Homo sapiens: one gene and its partner. The protein of the gene in region 1 interacts with the protein of each later gene in a pairwise test. Each region holds a gene or a part of one and is shown on either strand. Other genes may lie near its edges. The genes, in order: LURAP1 and ZNF821.

Evidence for each region.
Region 2: the proteins of LURAP1 (region 1) and ZNF821 interact in a two-hybrid assay, tested with the Homo sapiens proteins (one large-scale study listed by BioGRID and IntAct).

Annotation. Positions count from the first base shown.
Region 1 is NC_000001.11:46,209,597-46,213,420, forward strand, and holds part of LURAP1 (leucine rich adaptor protein 1), read left to right. Parts: intron 1-3,824. UniProt on the Homo sapiens protein: Acts as an activator of the canonical NF-kappa-B pathway and drive the production of pro-inflammatory cytokines. Promotes the antigen (Ag)-presenting and priming function of dendritic cells via the canonical NF-kappa-B pathway.
Region 2 is NC_000016.10:71,873,932-71,877,755, forward strand, and holds part of ZNF821 (zinc finger protein 821), read right to left. Parts: intron 1-3,824. UniProt on the Homo sapiens protein: May be involved in transcriptional regulation.

The DNA of each region.
Region 1 (3,824 bases):
TGCAGTGGCCCAATCTCAGCTCACTGCAGCCTCAGCCTCCCGAGTAGCTGGGATTACATGCACCCGCCACCACACAGCTAATTTTTGTATTTTTAGTAGAGACGGGGTTTTGCCATGTTGGCCAGGCTGGTCTTGAACTCCTGACCTCGGGTAATCCACTTGCCTCAGCCTCCCAAAGTGCTGGGATTACAAGCATGAGCCACCATGCACGGCTGTAGATGTAAATTTTGGAAAGAGGAAGGAAGGGAGGGATGGAGGGAGGCAGAAAGGAAGGAAAGGAGGGAGGGGAAAACAGCAGGACAAGTGTTTTTAGTATGAGGAGCTTTGTTTAATGTATTTAGTTTGGTCATGGACTAGGACAGTTGTCTTCACTGTTCATATATTTGTCTCCAGGATGAAATAATTGAAGATAATCTCCTTTATCAAGTTAATAGTCTGTACAGTCTGATATTGCAGTTATTTATGTTCATCTCCCCTTATTGAGACTGCAAGCTTCTATTAAGCAGGAACAATTTCTCCATTATCTTTGTAATTATTAGCAAATCCATGTACCCAATAGTCATTTGTTCAATTGAATTAGAGTTGTGATATTCTTCCAAAAACACAAATAATTTCAGGTATAAAATTTTTTTCTATGCTTTTGCCATAGTGTTTAGAAAACCCTAAACTGTGTGTGTGTGTTTTTTTAATTTTTTCACTTAATGCAACACAACAATAATCATTAATACAGAAGACCCCAAAATATATGAGGATTTCTTCCCACCAGCAAGCAAGCAATCAGTTCTGCAGCAGATACCAGCTGGGTGTCTACTAATTTAATTTCAACTCTGTCTACCTGGAGACAGTGTCACATCCCACAGGTTGAGGGCTCAGTCCCCAAGACTGTCCCCCTCTTCAGACACTAGTCGTAAATCTGGGCCTCCTGACCTTCTGACCAACCAGCTTCAAATTGGGGTTCCTATGACCCCCTCCTTGGGTTTGATTGGTTTGCTGGTGTGGCTCACAGAACTCAGGGAAACACATTTACTGGTTTATTATAAGGATATTACAAAGGATATAGATGAAGAGATGCATGGGGCAAGGCATACGGGAAGGGGTGCGGAACTTCTGTGCTCTCCCTGGGTGCACCACCCTCCATCTGTTCAGCTACTTGGACGCTCTCTGAATCCTGTTGTGGGGACCTTTTTTTATTTTTTGAGACAAGGTCTGGTTCTGTTGCCCAGGTTGGAGTACAGTGGCTCAATCACAGCTCACTGCAGCCTGTACTTCTCTGGCTCAATCAATCCTCCCAGTTCAGCCTCCTAAGTAGCTGGCACTACAGGTGTGCAATACCACACTCACCTAATTTTTTTTTTTTTTTTTTGGTAGAGACAGGGTTTCCCTGTGTTGCCCAGGCTGGTCTTGAACTCCTGGGATCAAGCGATCCTCCCACCTCAGTCCCCTAGAGTGTTGGGATTACAGGCTTAAGCCACTGTGCCTGGTCCTTTGGGCCTTTTAAAGAGACTTTATTGGTTGTCCACGATTGAAACATGGACAACCATATCAAAATGTTATTGGACAAAAAGGGTCTGATCAAAACCCAGCAAAGCCTGTCTGTTTAGATTCTTATTGGCCTCTCTCTGCGGCATTCCTTCCTCCAGGGTATGAGTCAGGACCTTCTCTGGAATGAGGGTCTTATGACCCACAATCAGATTAGAGTTCTACTCTGGGAAGGTGAGAGGAGAGCAGGAGAAGGTCAGAAAGAGACTGTTTCCTGAAGCCTATTTCTGAGTGCCCCAGCATTATAACAAACACTGTAACAATGGCTATGGGGCTTATGAGCCAAAAACTGGATGAAAACCTGCACACACACACACACACACACACACACACACACACACACACAGTAATATCACAACTAGTAAATAAGTCGACCATAGTAATATGTAGAGCCAAATAGCCTACCATTTATTGATTTACAGTATTATACTTGTCAGATGGTATGCTATGCATGTTAATATGTTCCTTCGATGTCTCATGACAAACCTTTAGATAGTACCTCATATTATAATAAAGAAATGAAGGTTTAAAGAAATCAATTTTAATTTCATATGGCTCATTAATGGCAAAACTGGAACTCAAATCTAGGTCCATTTAATTCCAGTGTCTAATTTTCTCAATGTACAAATATATATATATATTTTTTTGAGACGGAGTCTTGCTCTGTTGCCCAAGCTGGAGTGCAGTGGTGTGATCTCGGCTCACTACAACCTCTGCCTCGGTTCAAGTGATTCTCCTGCCTCAGCCTCCTGAGTAGCTGGGCTTACAGGCGTGCGCCACAACGCCTGGCCAATTTTTGTATTTTTATTAGAGACGGGGTTTCACCATGTTGGCCAGGCTGGTCTCAAATTCCTGATCTCAGGTGATCTTCCCACCTCGACCTCCCAAAGTGCCGGGATTACAGGAGTGAGCTACCACACCTGGCCTCAATGTACAAATATTAATGCATGGTCTTACTCTGGTTTATCATAGATGTGAATAAAGCAGTTATTTCCTGAATAATTCAATAAACATTTTTCAAATACAAAAAACATTTACTGTGTTTGTGTGACCTGCGGGATCTGACCTGTATATGTAAATACACATACACACATAATGACGTTTTGGTCAATGTCAGACCATGTATAACATAAACAACCATGTAAATTTTTTTTTTTTTTTTTGAGACGGAGTCTTGCTATGTCATCCAGGCTGGAGTGCAGTGGCGCGATCTCAGCTCACTGCAAGCTCCGCCTCCCGGGTTCATGCCATTCTCCTGCCTCAGCCTCCCCAGCAGCTGGGACTACAGGCGTACACTGCCACGCCCAGCGAATTTTTTTGTATTTTTAACAGAGACGGGGTTTCACCGTGTTAGCCAGGATGGTCTTGATCTCCTGACCTCGTGATCCGCCCGCCTTGGCCTCCCAAAGTGCTGGGATTACAGGCGTGAGCCACTGCACCCGGCCAAATTTTTTTTTTTGAATCAGAGTCTCGCTCTGTCACCCAAGCTATAGTACAGTGGCACCATCTCAGCTCACTGTAACCTCTGCCTCCCGGGTTCAAGTGATTCTCCTGCCTGAGCCTCCCGAGTAGCTGGGATTACAGGCAAGAGCCACCATGCTTGGCTAATTTTTTATTTTATTTTATTTTATTTTATTTTTTTGAGACAGAGTCTCGCTCTGTCGCCCAGGCTGGAGTGCAGTGGCATGATCCCAGCTCACTGCAAGCTCCACCTCCCGAGTTCACACCATTCTCTTGCCTCAGCCTCCTGAGTAGCTGGGACTACAGGTGTCCACCACCACACCTGGCAAAAATTTTTTTTGTAATTTTTAGTAGAGACGGGGTTTCACCGTGTTAGCCAGGATGGTCTCGATCTCCTGACCTCTAGTGATCTGTCCTCCTCAGCTTCCCAAAGTGCTGGGATTACCATATAAACATTTTGATCAATGATAGACTACATATGTCAAATAAACATTTATCATGTGTGTATATATGCACATATATATAAACATTTATGTGTATATAAGTGTGTACACATACACAAATATTTATATGATGTTTCAGTCATCATACGACCAAAACATACGATGTTTCGATGAACAGCATATACCATAGTGATTTCATAAGATTATAACACAGCATATACACAAATATGATATATGGCACTTGATATTGGCATAGCAGATCAAGTAGGGATTGATATTCAGTAATTGTGCTGGGACATTTTGTTTTCCATATTTTAAAAAGTATATAAATTTTTTAAAATGTCATCTAGTTTGTGCATTTACCCTGTCATATTTGCACGG
Region 2 (3,824 bases), on another chromosome or scaffold:
TGTGAGCGACCACGCCCGGCTGGAATTTTTTTTTTTTTTTTTTTGAGATGGAGTTTTGCTCTTGTTGCCCAGGCTGGAGTGCAATGGCGCGACCTTGGCTCACTGCAACCTCCATCTCCCAGGTCAGAGCGATTTTCCTGCCTTAGCCTCCCGAGTAGCTGGGATTACAGGCACCCGCCACCATGCCCAGCTAATTTTTGTATTTTTTTTAGTAGAGGCAGGGTTTCACCATGTTGGCCAGGCTGGTCTTGAACTCCTGACCTCAGGTGATCCACCCGCCTCGGCCTCCCAAAGTGCTGGGATTACAGGCATGAGCCACTGAGCCCGACCTGGGAATTCTTAATATATCCCTTTAGGTGGCCTATTAGTTTCATGCCACACAATCTTCGTCTTCCCAGAAGGCAGATCTAATGAAGCTCAGCCGTTACTCTGCTCAAGTGTCAATTAACTTTTATATTTAAGCAAAGCTTAATGCAGACTTTCCTGCCCCCCAGACCTTGAGTCCATTTCATTTACTTTATTTTGTGTATTTATTTTTTTGAGACCAAGTCTCATTCTGTCGTCCAGGCTGGAGTCCAGTGGCGTGATCTCGGCTCACTGCAACCTTTGCCTCCTGGGTTCAAGCAATCCTCCTGCCTCAGCCCCCCAAGTAGCTAGGATTACAGGCGTGTGTCACCATGCCCAGCTATTTTTTTGGATTTTAGTGGAGACAGGGTTTTGCCATGTTGGCCAGGCTGGTCTTGAATTCCTGACCTCAAGTGATCTGCCTGCCTCGGCCTCCAAAAGTGCTGAGATGACAGGTATGAGCCACCACGCTAGGCCCCATTTCATTTACTTTTAATAGACAAGCAGCATTAAATTAAATATATTTAGTTGGTTCTATTTCACTGCAAGGTGATAGGAGACTCACATGGTCAGAAAATGAAATTACCTATTTCTACTTGCCACTATTGCCATACGCAATGAAAAGATGATCTTTTGAAAAGGGTAGGGTCAGCTTCAGTTCCCAAATAACAAATAAATAGAAGGTCCTCTGAAACTAGCAAATCTCAGTTTTTCTTTTTTAGTCAAGCTTAGTGTATCACCTGAGAAGCCTTCATGGCTCCCTGACCAAATGCATGACTGAAAACAGCCCCTCCCTGGGGGTCTGCTCTTTAGTTGTAGCTGAACATCTGTGCTCACAGCCCCGCAGTAAAGGCCCTTGTAATGGCCACCTCCACAGAGCCTGCAAAGTCCCACCTACTCCACCTCAAAACAATGTTCTTTCGCTTGACTCTGTAACTTCATTTATGCAACTGTGGATGTGTGATATTCTCCTCACCTCCATGGCCTGTTTTTCCATCTGTTTTTCTTTTTTTCCTTTTTTTTGAGATGGAGTCTCACTCCGTCGCCCAGGCTGGAGTGCAGTGGTGTGATCTTGGCTCACTGCAACCTCTGCTTCCCAGGCTCAAGTGATTCTCCCGTGTTAGTCTCCTGAGTAGCTGGGATTATAGGCGTGCGCCACCATGCCCAGCTAATTTTTTTCTTTTTTTTTTTTTTTGAGACGGAGTCTTGCTCTGTCACCCAGGCTGGAGCGCAGTGGTGCGATCTCGGCTCACTGCAAGCTCCACCTCCCAGGTTCACACCATTCTCCTGCCTCAGTCTCCCGAGTAGCTGGGATTACAGGCACCCACCACCACGCCCGGCTAATTTTTTGTTTGTTTTGTATTTTTAGTAGAGACGGGGTTACACCGTGTTAGCCAGGATGGTCTCGATCTCCTGACCTCGTGATCCGCCGGCCTCGCCCTCCCGAAGTGCTGGGATTACAGGCGTGAGCCACCACGCCTGGCGCTAATTTTTATATTTTTAGTAGAGACAGGGTTTCACCATGTTGTCCAGGGTGGTCTCAAACTCCTGACCTCAGGTGATCCGCCCACCTTGGCCTCCCAAAGTGCTGGGATTACAAGCGTGAGCTATCACGCCTAGCCTCCATCTATTTTTCAACTCCATTAATAGCTCATCTTGGCTTTGACTATGGTGCAGGGAGATGCAGCTTATGGATATATGCTACGTGGGCATAGACATTGGCCACACAAGCCTGAAGTGGCTCCCCTGGCCTTACTACAATCACACCATCACCCCACCAGCTACTTTCCTCAAATCTAAGCAGGCTCTTGGACAGATGGCTTTTGTAGGTGAACACCCAACTCCTATACTTGCCTTGTTTGTGAACCTATCATTTCTACTAAGAGTACCTTTCCAGATGCCTTCTTGGGGTCACACTTGTGTCTTTTTATTTATTTATTTTTTTGAGACGGGGTCTTGCTCTGTTGCCCAGGCTAGAGTGCAGTGGCACTATCTCGGCTCACTGCAACCTCTGCCTCCCGAGTTCAAGTGATTCTCCTGCCTCAGCCTCCCGAGTAGCTGGGATTACAGGCACCCGCCACTGCACCCGGCTAATTTTTGTATTTTTAGTAGAGATGGGGTTTCAACATCTTGGCCAGGCTGGTCTCAAACTCCTGACCTCATGATCCACCTCCTGCCTCGGCCTCCCAAAGTGCTGGGATTACAGGCGTGCACCACCTGTGCCCGGCCACTTGTGTCTTTTATCAACCAGAGAGGAGAAACAATCCTAAACCCCTGTGATGGATGGCCTATGCTAAAATACTTCATTTTTTTCTTTCTCTTTTTCTTTTTTTGTTTTTGGAGACAGGATCTCACTCCGACGCTCAGGCTGGAGTGCAGTGGCATGATCTCAGCTCTCTCAGCTCACTGCAGCCTCGACCTTTTGGGTTCAAGCGATCCTCCCACCTCTGTCTCCCAAGTAGCTGGCGCTACAGGTGTGTGCCACCTCGCCCAGCTAATTTTTGTATTTTTGGTACAGATGGAGTTTTGCCTTGTTGCCCATGCTGCACTCAAACTCCTGGCCTCAAGTTATCCTGCACTGGCCTCCCAAAGTGTTGGGATTACAGGCATGAGCCACCGAGCTCGGCTAAAGATACTTCATTTTATCTTCCTTGACAATCCTCACGTGCAAGCCCACTGCATTTTGCTGTTTTAGCAGCAATTTCTAAATCTTCCCTAAACCACTCATCTGTGTATTAAGTAGCCTTTGCACACCCCCATTCCAGAATATACTCCTAGAAGCATCCAACTCGTTCCGTTTTACACTTTTCCGGGACTTAAATAGAAGAAAGAATTTTATATGGAGGTTTGCTATTGTAATCTCATTAATGTATAAAATGTCAAAACCCTCTTAATTCCTCTGTTTATACTATTTTGTCTTCTACTCTTGAAGTAACCCAGTAAGATTCAGATAAAGTGCATAGTGCCTGGGATATAGTTTTTTGGTTTTTGTTTGTTTGTTTGAGACGGGGTCTCACTCTGGCACCCAGACTGGAGTGCAGTGGCATAATCTTGGCTCACTGCAGCCTCAACTTCCCAGGCTCCAGCCATCCTCCCACCTCAGCCTTCTGAGTAGCTGGGACTATAGATGTATGCCCCCAGGCCTAGTTTTTTTGTATTTTTTTGAAAAAACGGGGTTTTGCCATGTTGCTCAGGCTGGTCTCGAACTCTTGGGCTCATGCAATCCTCCTGCCTTGGCCTCCCAAAGTGTTGGGATTACAGTGGTGAGCCACTGCGCCCAGCCTATATAGCATGTTTTTAAGAAATTTTAGTTATCTTGTCAATTACTTGACTAATCTGTCCTCTCCAATGTAGGGTTTTAGCCAGCTGCAGTGGCTCATGCCTATAATCCCAGCACTTTGGGAGGCTGAGGTGGGTAGGTCACTTGAGCTCAGGAGTTCAAGACCAGCCTGGGCAACATGGTGAAACCCCGTCTCTAC